Linked DNA regions of Homo sapiens. The protein of the gene in region 4 purifies or fractionates together with the protein of the main gene of each other region. This does not show direct contact. Each region holds a gene or a part of one and is shown on either strand. Other genes may lie near its edges.

Region 1 (4,128 bases), on a different chromosome or scaffold from region 4:
GGGGGTGATGAAGAGGCCAGTGTAGGTCACCAACACTGGGGGAAGCTGGGGACAGAGGTGGGTCTCACTGCAGAAACAACTGAAGCCATGGGGGACTGGGGGGCTGTGGTCACAAGGAAGGAGAAGCCCAGGCCCTAGCCAGAGAAAGCCACATAAGAAAGAGGAAGAGAGGTGAACAGAGGGGCTGGGAAAGGAGCGGCAGAGATGGGAGGTAGGGGGATGGGGTTAACCTTTCAGGTGAGGGGTGTGAGGAGGGGACCTCCAGGAGTTGTTCAGGAACTGGCCATTGCCGGGACAGAGGAGTAAGCAGGTAGGCTCAGAAAGGAGACACCGCTGGGGGGTGGGGGATGCTTGATGTGGAAATGACTTGGGCCCCCTTGTGTCTGGGAGCCTCCAGGAGGGAGAAGGGTGCTGAGAACAGAGAAAGCCCAGAGGTGGTAGGGGGTGCCTATCGCCACGGCCCAGCTTGCGTTTAGATGCCATGACCCTGGGCAAAGGAATAGGAATCATTTCCCCAAGGCAGGTTTATTGAGGACCTACTATGTGCCAGGCTGTGTACTAGGCACTGGAGGTGCAGCCCTGGATAAACAGCCCCCATGTACAGGACTGTGGGAGATCACAAGCACTAATGAGAGACGCTGAGGACAGTGCCTGGCACCAGATACAGCACAGTCAGCATGAGCTGGTTTTATTACCATCGCCCAGGACACAAGCGTGTCTTTAACGAAGGGCCCTCAGGCAGCCGTCCAGCCTGGACTGGAGTCCTAAGAACAGAAACACCCTCCAGAAGCGGTCAGCTGTACTCCCTGTCAGAGCCCCACCGCCACCACAGGTGGCGGCTTTCCCGAGGCCAGCCCAGAGGACTGCCCAGGCGCTGCTGCTCCAGGAGGTGCGAACCTTGGGAATGGGGGAGGGGAGTGGGCAGGTCCCTCCAAGTTTGGGGTGCCGTGGGCTACAGAAGCAGATACTGGTGGGGCTGGGACTCTTGGTTGCTCAGATATCTTGGTGGCTGTCCAGAGGGTCCCACGAGCCCTGCCCCCACCTGCTGTGGCAGTTGCAGGGATGCTTGAAGGCAGTCGTCCCTCTAATAGTAGAGTTCCTGGTCCCACCAGCCTGGGAGAGAGAGGGAGAAAGGAGACTCAGTGCTGGGGGTGCCACTTAGGCAGGGCCAGGGGCTCAGAGGTCAGTGCTGGTTGCTATGGAGGGTCAAGGGCTTAGAGGCCAAGTGTTGAGGATCAAAGGTGGGTGCAGCTGCTCAAACGTTTCAGTCCCCTGCCCCCAGGCTCCCAGTCTCCACACTCACTCCCTGGGCAACAGCGAACTCCAAGCTTCCGGATCTCATCATAGACGAAGATGAGGATGCCGTAGGGCAGGGGGACCAGCCACCACTGGAACCTGAAGGCACATGGCAAGGTGAAGGCCATCCCAGGCCTGTGCCCTACAGCCCCCTCCCTGTCCTTGCCCCTCACAGCCTCTCACCGAATGGGCATGAAGTTGAAGATGTTGGGCATGCCGGGGCAGTAGCACAGGAAGCAGCCGATGCAGACCTGGAACACGATGGCGATCACCAGGATCTTATTCCTGGGGGTGGGCAGAATGGGACAGGCCATTAGGAATTGGGGACGTGATGGAAATCAGGATACTGTGGGTCAAAGTAGGTCAGATGTCAGCAGCAGCAGGGAGGTGTTCTACACACTGAACACTGGAGTGGCCCGGGCCTCTCAGCACCACCCCTTTAGTGAAATGTGGAGGGGGCCGTGGGGGGAGTTATTGGCCAGTTAGAAAGGTTTTTTTGGCATGTCACCATCTGGCACTGGCACCCGCTGGCATTTGCCGGCTGTTCTAAACCACAGTCAGGATCTGATGGGAGTTGGGACCAGGGGTTGGAGGGCAGGAAGAGGGCCAGCCAGGGACACCTGAAGAAGCCTTGCTGGAAGGCAGAGAGACGGCGCGTCTTGCGGATGAGGACATCGGCGATCTGGCACACCTCAATGCTGATGAAGAACACGGTGTAGCAGGTGTACTGCTGGTACAGGCGCTGCCCGAATGTCTGCAGGCCAGGGGCAAACGGAAACAGCCTGAGTCCAGCCTGAGTCCCGGCGGAGAGCCTCTGCAGCCCACCGGGCATAGGGTCCCAGGGCCGTGAACCCCTAAATGCTCTCTCTGCCTTGCATCAGAGTGTGGGGGTGGGGGGAAGGAGAGAGGCAGGGTCTGCCAGGTGTGCAGGACCCCAGAACGTGGGGCCCAGAAACCTCAGCCTAGCAGAGCTTGGATGACAGTGGCCGGGAAAACTGTAGGCTGGGCCGACTGCTTTCATAGTGAAAGGGGGGAGGCACCCAAAAGAAAGGGCCTGGGAAAGGGGAATTGAAATCCTCAGATGGGATTTGCAAAGTCCAGTGACTCCAGGGGCCAGGCAGATGGCAAAAATAGGTGAGGCAGTCACCGCGGGCCTTTGGGAAAAGAGGGCAGATGCCCCATTTAAAGGGGGCAGCCACTATGCAGCCCATTTCTTCAACACAGCTACTTTTTTTTTTGAGATGGAATCTCGCTCTGTCACCCAGGCTGGAGTGCAGTGGTGCAATCTCAGCTCACTGCAACTTCCGAATCCCAGGTTCAGGAGATTCTCCTGCCTTAGCCTCCCAAGTAGCTGGAATTACAAGCATGTGCCACCATGCCTGGCAACACAACTCCTAATACCAGCTAACTGTGGGGATCACTGACTGCTCCAGGTGCCGAGTGTTGCACGTGCATTAGCTCATTTAATCCGCTGGGTAACCCTAGGAGGTAAATCAGTGGTGCTGGAACTTGAACATGCATGAGAATCCCAGCAAGGGCTCCCAGAGGGCTGGGATAGAGCCTGAGAATTTGCACTGCAAACATGTTCCCAGGAGATGGTGATGCTGCTGGTCTGGGAGCAAACTGAAAACCACTGAGGTAGACTTTGATATTCTCTCCACTTTGCAGGTGAGAAAACAGGCACAGAGAGGCAAAGCAACCTGCCCAGGGTTACACAGCTTGTGAGAAGCAGTACCAGACCATAAGTCCAGGCAGTCTGGCTTCAGTGTCTACCTTAACCATGATAGTAAATGTTTAAGGGAAGTATCCTCGTCTGTATGTAACTCTACAGGTGAACTAAACACATCTGCTGGCCAGATCTAGCCTCACTGTGCTCCAAACCTTCATTAAAATAGACCACATGTGCAAATACCCTGTGGGAGTGATGCTGTAGGGAAAATAGCAGAATAGGGGCCTGGTTCCACATCTGAGATGATGCATTAGTGTCAGGGCAGAGACACCCATCTGCAGTTGCGATCATCAGAAGCAGGAGTTTGGAGCTGGAGATGGTGGGAAAGGCCCTTGCCCCCCCGAACTGGCAGGGAGTCTGGGGGTCCGGGATGCTCTGGCTGAACTCAGTCACACGTGGAGGAACAAGTGGGCCGCACACAAGGCAAGTTGCCCTGGGAAGGAGGGAGCCCAGGGATGGGATGGGGCGGGGCAGGGCTCACCCACTCCTGGCCGTAGCTGTCCTGCAGATCTTGTAGGTGGTGGTCCTCCCACTGCGCCCGCAGCCCCACGCACAGCAGTGGGAACCAGCCCTCCTGGGCCATTGCCGTGAAGTAGTCAGTGAAGCCAGCAAAGGACTGAATGGCACCTGGAGAGAGACAAGGGGACACAGGGAGACAGAGATGGACACAGAGACAGGGACACAGGAAGAGAGGGACATGGAGAGACAGGGACACAGATACACAAAGGTCAAGGACACACAGACAGGGACACGGGAAGAGAGACAGGGACACAGATACACAAGGTCAAGGACACACAGAGCCAGGGACACAGAAACAGTGACAGAGACACAGAGGCAGAGAGAGAAGCAGGGACAGAGAGACAGAGGCAGGGACAGAGAGAAAAAGACACATCCAGGACCCAAAAAGACAGAAATAGGCAACAACTCAGAGACAGGGTCATGGAGAGCAAGGTCAGAGAGAGAGCAGGGACACAGCAGAACCAGAGAGACTGTCACAAACAGAGAGGGACACGGAGGACAACGGAGACCCAGGACCAAATGCAGACACTGAGGTCCAGAACCAGCCGGAGCCCAAGGCAGGGCCTGGGGCAGGCGAGCAGCCC
Region 2 (3,182 bases), on a different chromosome or scaffold from region 4:
CGGCCTCCCAAACTGCTGGAATTACAGGCATGAGCCACCGCTCGGCCACCTCTGGAGTTCTGATTGTTCCCACAGAAGAGACAGATCTGACAAGTGGGGCTCCAAGGTCATGGCTGGTGGCTATGCTTTATGGTGAGTCTGGGCATCTCTGAGTCTGTGTTCTTTTTCCTTTTCTTCTCACCCTGTCCTCCTAGGCAGCAATCAGCATCTTTGGCATGGTTGGGGGACCGCTGCTGGGACTCTTCTGCCTTGGAATGTTCTTTCCATGTGCTAACCCTCCTGTGAGTGATGCATCTGGATCCACAGTCATGTGTAGCAGGATGGACCTGGGGGTTGGCAGGGCTGTCACCAGGAGAGCTGAGGACTGCCGTGAGGGCTGGCAGGACTGGCCTTGTGACAGGCCTGCACTGTGTCTCGGCAGGGTGCTGTTGTGGGCCTGTTGGCTGGGCTCGTCATGGCCTTCTGGATTGGCATCGGGAGCATCGTGACCAGCATGGGCTCCAGCATGCCACCCTCTCCCTCTAATGGGTCCAGCTTCTCCCTGCCCACCAATCTAACCGTTGCCACTGTGACCACACTGATGCCCTTGACTACCTTCTCCAAGTAAGGCAGGGCTTGCTATCTTCTTGTTTTCTCAAAGCCCTCCTTTGAGGGCTTTCACAGGGGTCTTGCTAAGGGATGGGCCACCAGAGGCCCCAGGGAAATGTTGGGTATTGGGTCCCAAGACCCTGGGACCATGCGGGCAAGTAGAGATTGGTGCCCAAGGAATGCCCTGCCAACGAATTGCTAATTGTTCTCACCTCTGCTCTTCCCAGGCCCACAGGGCTGCAGCGGTTCTATTCCTTGTCTTACTTATGGTACAGTGCTCACAACTCCACCACAGTGATTGTGGTGGGCCTGATTGTCAGTCTACTCACTGGTAAGGGTGTGGGATTGCGGTGCAGATGAGCACCGAGGGGTTAACAGAGGGCCCTAAGGGACTCTAGGGAGAAAGGCTCCTGCCCTCTGAGCTCTTGGGTGTCCGTAGCTGTCAGGCTTTTCTGCTGGGATGTAGGAGGTGGGTGGGGGCTGGGGTCTCTGGGGGCCAAGGGAGGACATGGGGCCCGCTGCTGTGGATGGTTCCACCCAGAGACTCAGAAGCACATTTCCATTCAGGGAGAATGCGAGGCCGGTCCCTGAACCCTGCAACCATTTACCCAGTGTTGCCAAAGCTCCTGTCCCTCCTTCCGTTGTCCTGTCAGAAGCGGCTCCACTGCAGGAGCTACGGCCAGGTAGTACCTGCTGTCCAAGTGACCCCTCCCTGCCCTTCTCCACAGATGCCACTGACTCTTCAGGTTCCCTTCTACCCCTTTTCTCTCCCCCTGCCCCGGGTGCCTCTCTCAGGATCAGCTAAGCCTAGGCTGTCCCACACGGCTGTCTCAGGTTCTACCCACAGGACTGCACTGGCTTGGTGGGCAGAAGGATCTCAGGGCTCAGAGGAGCTCAGCCCCAGCCTGGGCCAGTCAGCTCCCCTCCCCAGCCCACCCTGTGCTCCCTGCTGTGCTATGCCCTCCCTCTTTTCCCCCTGCTCTCCCTCCCGAACCCAGCCTTGCTGGGCTCCCTTCTGGCGGGGACCTTTTTTGTGTGAATCCTGTCAAGCACCCGTCATCCGTCTTCACCAGTTCCACCCCTTTGGCTCTGTGTTTGCAGGACCACCTCGACACTGGCCTGTTTCCTGAGAAGCCGAGGAATGGTGTGCTGGGGGACAGCAGAGACAAGGAGGCCATGGCCCTGGATGGCACAGCCTATCAGGGGAGCAGCTCCACCTGCATCCTCCAGGAGACCTCCCTGTGATGTTGACTCAGGACCCCGCCTCTGTCCTCACTGTGCCAGGCCATAGCCAGAGGCCACCCTGTAGTACAGGGATGAGTCTTGGTGTGTTCTGCAGGGACAGGCCTGGATGATCTAGCTCATACCAAAGGACCTTGTTCTGAGAGGTTCTTGCCTGCAGGAGAAGCTGTCACATCTCAAGCATGTGAGGCACCGTTTTTCTCGTCGCTTGCCAATCTGTTTTTTAAAGGATCAGGCTCGTAGGGAGCAGGATCATGCCAGAAATAGGGATGGAAGTGCATCCTCTGGGAAAAAGATAATGGCTTCTGATTCAACATAGCCATAGTCCTTTGAAGTAAGTGGCTAGAAACAGCACTCTGGTTATAATTGCCCCAGGGCCTGATTCAGGACTGACTCTCCACCATAAAACTGGAAGCTGCTTCCCCTGTAGTCCCCATTTCAGTACCAGTTCTGCCAGCCACAGTGAGCCCCTATTATTACTTTCAGATTGTCTGTGACACTCAAGCCCCTCTCATTTTTATCTGTCTACCTCCATTCTGAAGAGGGAGGTTTTGGTGTCCCTGGTCCTCTGGGAATAGAAGATCCATTTGTCTTTGTGTAGAGCAAGCACGTTTTCCACCTCACTGTCTCCATCCTCCACCTCTGAGATGGACACTTAAGAGACGGGGCAAATGTGGATCCAAGAAACCAGGGCCATGACCGGGTCCACTGTGGAGCAGCCATCTATCTACCTGACTCCTGAGCCAGGCTGCCGTGGTGTCATTTCTGTCATCCGTGCTCTGTTTCCTTTTGGAGTTTCTTCTCCACATTATCTTTGTTCCTGGGGAATAAAAACTACCATTGGACCTAGAATTTGGGCTCCTGTACTGTCTTCACCTGCTCTTGTCCACCCTACTGCATCCTCTGGTGAGGATAAGGAGTCCTATCCTATGTACAGGTCACCTTCCTGTGCTGAGGAGGGGGGCTGTGGCTTCAAGTCCCTGCTGTCCCTGTGTCTGCAGGGGACAGTGTTGTGCTCACCATGGTAGAAGATGCACACCCTCTCCTAGGGCTTCTCATCCCCTGGGGCTTACTTAGTCTGTCCCTTCTCCGGCCCCACTTTCCCTTTGCCAGAACCTTTTGCTCTCAGATTTTTACTTTTGGAACTGGAGGAAGAATGTTCCCATCTGATTTTAGAAACGGAACATTCTAGCTGGACTTTTATGGTCTTGTGAAGAACACTGTGCTCACACCCTCCCACACCTGGCCTCTGCCCCTGCCTGGCCCTGTTCAGCTGCCCACATCAGCTCTGCACCAGCTCTCCGGGGTCTCTTAACAGAGACCGGGTCCCAGGCATATCTGAATTCAGCCTC
Region 3 (3,005 bases), on a different chromosome or scaffold from region 4:
TCCACATTTTCCAGTTAAACACACATGCCCTGTTGTCTGGGGTAGTGGTTCTCAAAAGCAGCCTACAAGCGGGTCAGGAAGGCAGTCTCACAAAGCATGAATGTAAAGTCTATTCCACGCTGTGGGTTACAGCAGTACAGAAATGATAACATGGGCAGACTGTTTCTCTATTGGTATGAAGAAAGCAGCAGAGAGGTACTTTTGGGGGCTTTTTGCCATGCCTATCAAAGGGGCCTAAATGTTGAAAAATAAATATTTTGAGAACCACTGCTGTAGGACCTGACCAAAAAAAAAAACAAAAAAAAAACCTGTGGTAAAAAGCATACAGATCATCAGATTAACATTGACCAATCTCATCAGCATCTCAATACTATCTTTAGATTGTGGACTGATGGCGGGTCCACAGATCACCAGAGAGAACTTGCTTTATCTGTCAACCTTCAGCCTAAAGTGAGTAGGTCAGTAATGAGTTTCTAGTATTGGTAAAGTCAGTGTCTTAAATGGAAAAGCAAGTGGGCAGTTGTATGTTTTCACACAAGTGGTGTTAAGTAATAAGAAATGGAGGTGGGGGTACATTTTTGGAAAGTGAAGTCTTTATAAAAAGTAAAGACAGTATTTTCTGAAATGTTTGAAGGAGGGGATTTAGCAAGCAGGGATGAAGAAAAGGCATTTAGGATCTTGTCTATGGTCTGGAAAAAGCTTATAGGTACAAAAAATATTAGATATTGGGAGAGTTAAAAAGTTATTTGGGGGATAGGCAAGGAGAGGAAAGAACAGGCTCAGATGTGAAGACCATATACGACAGATTGGGTAATAAGACTTTCATCTGCTCAGTCTTGACTTTAAATTCCATCCATTCATCCATCCACACATGTAGTGACTGTCAATACATGTTGACATTACACGTAAAGGTATAAGCTTATGTGCCAGACACTTGGATAAAAAGATGACTGAGACATGATCTCTGTCTCTAGGAGCTGTCTAGGAGTTAAATAAGTGTGTGGGCTGTGTGTGTGTGTGATCTATCTATGACTTTACAACTCAATGCCATAGATCCTTTAAGTTTTAAGAGAGTGCCATGTGAGGGTGCGGGATTAACAAATAGCCTGGGAAAACTGTAAAAAATGTGAAACGATATAATAGTTTAACTGGCTCTCAAAAGATGCAAAAGAGCTTTGGCAAGCAGAGGAAGATGTACAAACAGGCAAAAGGAAAGAGGCCAGAAAGTCCACCGGGCAGCTGGAAACAGTAAGAGGCATGCTAATGCCTAGGTGCTGAGAAGATAATTTGTTTAGGAATAAATTGTAAAATACCTTGTATTTCAAATGATTTTCCAACAGGCTCTGGTGAGCTGAGGCAGTCAAGAGATTGAAAGGTTAGAGATAAGCTAGATAAGGTGCCTAATTTAAGCCACTGGTGGGGACTATGAAGAATGGGTCTGAATTCAGAGAGCAGATGGATTCAACAGAATATGCTGAAAACAGACGATGGCAGTGGGTTTTCCCATATAGGAAAGAATGAACCTATCAAGCCTGCAGAATCAATTTCAATGCCATTAGGGGTTGAGAAAAGAACGACTGTGGTTTAATTAGGATAGGATTTTCTTCAGAGAGAAGGGGAAAGAAGTGAAAGTTAACACAAGGCCAGAACAGGTCAGGTGAGGCATTTTTTTTAAACCATGAAAGAGATACAGAATATGGTAGGGGAAAAGGTCATGATCAAGTTAGAATGAAGAGTCAGGAGAGACATTAATTATAGCAACCCAGTGTGGTTCCAATTAAGCAGAGAGGCTACAGCAAATGAGGAGGACAAAGAGACAACATCAGGTATGAAGGCAGATCACAGACTGGGCACAGGGGCTGAGTTTTATGTGGAGGTAAAGACAGAAGACACTTACATATAAGGACCTGATACAGAGAAAGAGATTAAGGAAGTAAATAGGAATGGTGTTAGTAGAGATAATGTTCCTGAAACCTTAGTGGGAATTTTTTTACTTAAATGGTTTGATTGATACAATGAGAGGTTACAGGGATCTAAGGAAGTCTAGGCAGTAATCTGTCGAAGCTGCTGGAGAGGATGACGAAATGGGGCGAGGAGGCAAGATGCGGGGGCCTTTCCATGGCAAGAAAATACTGAATGCACTGCCATAATGTAAATATGAGAGTTACACAGACAAAGCAAGGCAAATACCAAAGAGAATCAGGAAAGAATGCCCTGAAGATCTGCATTAAAACTGTTCTCTGAAATTAAGCTTGTCTTGTGAGGATTCACTGAAAATGAGAGTCAACCACTAAGGAGATTTGTATGAAAAGAACCCAGCGAATTAGAGAAAAGATAGATGCTGGCAGCTAAGACAGGAGAGGGACATGTGAGTTGGGCCAGGGTACAGAAAATGCAGTGTGGCAAAGGGCAGAGTGGGAAAGGTGGGAGGGAGCTGCCAGGTCTCAACCACCTGGGGGAGACCATGACAAAGTAAGAGACACTTATGAGGTATTTCCAGAAAGCTTTGTTAGAATAATAATTAAAGAAAAGGGTATGTCACTAGGGCAAAAGATTAGAAAGAAGGCAAAAGAGATGGATCTGTACAGGCTAACTGCAGCAGTCTATGCAGGTCTGGACTGAACTGAGAAGCAATGGGTGCAGCATAGTGTGTAGGACATCGAGGAAAGCTGGGCAGTGAGTGCCAAAATAAGCAATACACACCTACCTGGAAAATCGTGTTGAGTCTGTGGGAATGCTGTACAAATGGTGGGAGGGAGTTTTTCTCTAGGACAAATTCAGAAAGGGAAGGAGGAATGGTACTGGAAAGCAACATTAGAGTTGTCCTCAGATGAAAAGGAGTTGGTCACTAAGGAATGACACACATCAACAGGAAGGTAAGACAGCATTGCTGGGCCAAAAGTCATAAGAGAGTATGAAATAAGAGACTGGAAGCAAAGGAAAGAAAATATTACATAAGGAAGGGCCTACTGGCAGAGCAGGTGTGGAATAAAGATTTAGAATGG
Region 4 (3,440 bases):
TCTCGAACTCCTGACCTCAGGTGATCCACCCACCTTGGCCTCTGGAAGTGCTAGGATTACAGGTGTGAGCTACCGTGCCCGGCCATTTCATTGTTCTTAGTGGTGAAAATGTACATCGAAATTTAAGAATATACTTTTATTCAACGAAGAGTTTGTTTTTAGTTTTTTGAGACAGAGTCTGGCTCTGTTGCCCAGGCTGGAATGCAGTGGCACAATTTCATCTCATGGCAACCTCCACCTTCTGGGTTCAAGCAATTCTTCTGCCTCAGCCTCCCAAGTAGCTAGGACTATAGGCGTGTGCCACCACACCTGGCTAATTTTTCATATGTTTAGTAGAGACGGGGTTTCACTGTGATGGCCAGGCTGGTCTTGAACTCCTGACTGCAGGTGATCCACCTGCTTCGACCTTCCAAAGTGCTGGGATTACAGGCGTGAGCCACCTTGCTCGGCCAGAGTTTTTTAATGTAAGTACTTCCATGAAATAAATCCCAAATGTGACATTTAGGTTTCTCCAATACAATTTATTATTATTACATTTTAGCTTGCATTTACTAAGTGTCATGGAAATATTATACTCAAAATAACAGAGCTCCAGAGAAAGACAGTTAACTAAGAAAGAACAGTTTCACTTTCTTAGCTTGTCAACTCCTAGTTAGCCTGCTTGCCTCCGCACCACAGATGCTTGTCTTCTTGTGGTTGTTACCACAAGCCAAAGCTTGAATTTACATGGGCATCAGGCCAAGTCTGTAAATCCGTGAAGACAGGCCATCAACTGCATTGAGGGTACAGCCTTGCTGAAGGGTCCTTTCTTGACAGTCAATGATGATGAATCTGGAAAAACTGTCTATTCTCTTAGGAGAAGAAAATATACCCCACCTAAAGTCGCAGCTACCATTAACAAAAAAAAAAATTAGCAAAGGGAAAGAATCAATGGTAAGGACAGTAAATATACTCTGAGAATAGAGTAAGTACAATTTACACACGCTGGAGTAAATAGTGAAGCTTCTACTGAGTTCTACTGAGTCTAAGCTCTTTTATTTTTAAAATTCTGATAAAAATTTACTCAATTACATTTTATACATTAATATTTAGTGAATTTGTCCAAAAAGGCTATGTTTAATTTATGTGTAAAAATAACAAAAGATGTATCAGTCAGTCTCTGGGCAATAAGAAAGGAAGAAAGCCTTGCTAGAAATAATAAATAATCTCACGCAAAAGGCCAGGTGACATAAGAATACTACAATAATCAATATGTTTTCTTTGTATTTACAATAAAATCCATCTGTTAACACTGTGATAGAAAAAATAATCAGTCCACATCATGTAATAAAAACAGGCTTTGAGGATGATTATACCTCTTATAATAAAAACATACAAGGATTTCTCACAGCTAAAGTACTTTTCAACTTTGACAACTAATAACAGTCATGGGTGAAGGTAAAACTGACAGAGTACTTTAGATCAGCTATGTCCTACAGTCAAGGAATCAAGGGCATTACCCATTTACCAAGCAGCAAAAAGCACTTTCATTTTTCCAGAACTATTTAAATACAGTAGTTGCCATGTGATCAGTTAATTTTACTTTGTGAGTTAGATAAAGTAAAGACTAAATTGGGAAACTGCAATAAGTAATCAAAAGTAGCTCCAAACAACAAAGCCATCAATAGAAACAAAAGGCATTTTTCTAGGTGTATCATGCATAAAAAGAATAATTACATAATATTATTAAATATATTCCTTAATGACCAGATTAATAAATGAGGTAAAATTTAGTCATTGGAACAAATAAACTATATTTAATCACTTGTGTTTTGCTGTCACTGTTTAAAATAATTAACTTAATGTCTAAAAACTACATACTCTTGAATGTTTGCTTTTTAGAGCCCCTTGTGGGATATTAAAGAGCCATAACAAATTATCTGAATATAAATTATCAATACCAGGCTGGGCACAGTGGCTCATGCCTGTAATCCCAGCACTTTGGGAGGTGGAAGTGGGCATATAGCCTGAGGTCAGGAGTTCAAGACCAGCCCGGCCAACATGGTGAAACCCCGTCTCTACTAAAAACACAAAAATTAGCTGGGCACGGTGGCACACACCTGTAATCCCAGCTACTCAGGAGGCTGGGCCAGGAGAATCGCTTGAACCCAGGAGGCGGAGTTTGCAGTGAGCCGAGATCACACCACGCACTCCACTCCAGCCTGGGCAACAGCAAGACTCCGTCTCAAAAAAAAAAAAAATTATCAATACCAAATATGATACAGTTATGTAATACCCATTTTGCATATGCACAGTGGAAATACTGTAAAAACTACAAGATGAAAGAAAACCGACTGGCCAGAACTTTAAATTTCAGACTAATCCATGATAAAAATCTAGATGATAAAAAACAAAAATAAAATTAACAAAATAGATAACTTGATATCCTTTCCATATTCAGTCGTCTACTAACATGCCATCTCCAAACAAATCCATTACCTCAAAAGAGGAAGAAAATGGGCCAGGCGCGGTGGCTCACGCCTGTAATCCCAGCACTTTGGGAGGCCAAGGCGGGCAGATCACGAGGTCAGGAGATCGAGACCATCCTGGCTAACACGGTGAAACCCCGTCTCTACTAAAAATACAAAAAAATTAGCTGGGCATGGTGGCGGGCGCCTGTAGTCCCAGCTACTCAGGAGGCTGAGACAGGAGAATGGCGTGAACCCAGGAGGTGGAGCTTGCAGTGAGTGGAGATCGCGCCACTGCACTCCAGCCTGGGCGGCAGAGCTAGACTCCGTCTCAAAACAGAAAAAAAAAAAAAAAAAAAAAGAGGAAGAAAATGTAAATCTCTTTTTAAGTTTTCCAGTTTATGCTCTGAAAAAAGCCTAACATTAACAAAACCTGCAACACTACTTTAAAAAATCTAGAATTTAAAAATATCTATTTTAGTTATTAAAGATAAAAAATATTCAATTAAATTGAATGAATTAGCTGGATCAACAATTTCCTACCACACTACTATTATCTACAGCTACCCTTGGTATAATAATTTATAAGATGTCTAAGATGTCTACCTTAACTATTGATAGCACTTTTCACAGTATACCAATTTCCATTTTTACTTTCTTCTCCCCTTGTCACTTAAATGTATTACTTTAACTATCTGATAGGAAATTTTATTTTACAAATTCCTTGTTTAATTACTGAAGAGGTGATTTTAAAACATAAATGGATGCACCTGTTAATCCTGAGATGGTGATGACAGCAAAACTAAAAATCAGATGATTATTTTTACTCAAATTTCTGCTTTAGTTTTTTTTGGAAGATGGCTGGCAGAATAGAAAGAACAGCCAAGATCATCAGAATAAATATTGAGTTCCAGGAAACAGCTTCTCCTGCTGTTGTAAGTTGATACAGTGTTGTTCCTGCCTTAATGGCTACAAAAGAAGGAGGTGCGACAC

What was found.
Region 1: the proteins of TMEM41B (region 4) and ATP4A purify together in Homo sapiens (affinity purification with mass spectrometry, with the first as the bait; one large-scale study listed by BioGRID). This does not show direct contact.
Region 2: the proteins of TMEM41B (region 4) and SLC5A6 purify together in Homo sapiens (affinity purification with mass spectrometry, with the first as the bait; one large-scale study listed by BioGRID). This does not show direct contact.
Region 3: the proteins of TMEM41B (region 4) and COPG2 purify together in Homo sapiens (affinity purification with mass spectrometry, with the first as the bait; one large-scale study listed by BioGRID). This does not show direct contact.

The regions. Positions count from the first base shown.
Region 1 is NC_000019.10:35,549,531-35,553,658, forward strand, and holds the end of ATP4A (potassium-transporting ATPase alpha chain 1), read right to left. Parts: intron 3,653-4,128; coding exon 3,507-3,652; intron 2,051-3,506; coding exon 1,917-2,050; intron 1,582-1,916; coding exon 1,480-1,581; intron 1,396-1,479; coding exon 1,304-1,395; intron 1,114-1,303; coding exon 1,085-1,113; 3' UTR 501-1,084; downstream 1-500. UniProt on the Homo sapiens protein: The catalytic subunit of the gastric H(+)/K(+) ATPase pump which transports H(+) ions in exchange for K(+) ions across the apical membrane of parietal cells.
Region 2 is NC_000002.12:27,199,087-27,202,268, reverse strand, and holds the end of SLC5A6 (sodium-dependent multivitamin transporter), read left to right. Parts: intron 1-194; coding exon 195-281; intron 282-421; coding exon 422-603; intron 604-815; coding exon 816-919; intron 920-1,155; coding exon 1,156-1,271; intron 1,272-1,689; coding exon 1,690-1,833; coding exon of another isoform or gene 1,834-1,879; 3' UTR 1,880-2,682; downstream 2,683-3,182. UniProt on the Homo sapiens protein: Sodium-dependent multivitamin transporter that mediates the electrogenic transport of pantothenate, biotin, lipoate and iodide.
Region 3 is NC_000007.14:130,508,744-130,511,748, forward strand, and holds part of COPG2 (coatomer subunit gamma-2), read right to left. Parts: intron 1-3,005. UniProt on the Homo sapiens protein: The coatomer is a cytosolic protein complex that binds to dilysine motifs and reversibly associates with Golgi non-clathrin-coated vesicles, which further mediate biosynthetic protein transport from the ER, via the Golgi up to the trans Golgi network.
Region 4 is NC_000011.10:9,280,154-9,283,593, forward strand, and holds the end of TMEM41B (transmembrane protein 41B), read right to left. Parts: coding exon 3,271-3,440; 3' UTR 501-3,270; downstream 1-500. UniProt on the Homo sapiens protein: Phospholipid scramblase involved in lipid homeostasis and membrane dynamics processes. Has phospholipid scramblase activity toward cholesterol and phosphatidylserine, as well as phosphatidylethanolamine and phosphatidylcholine.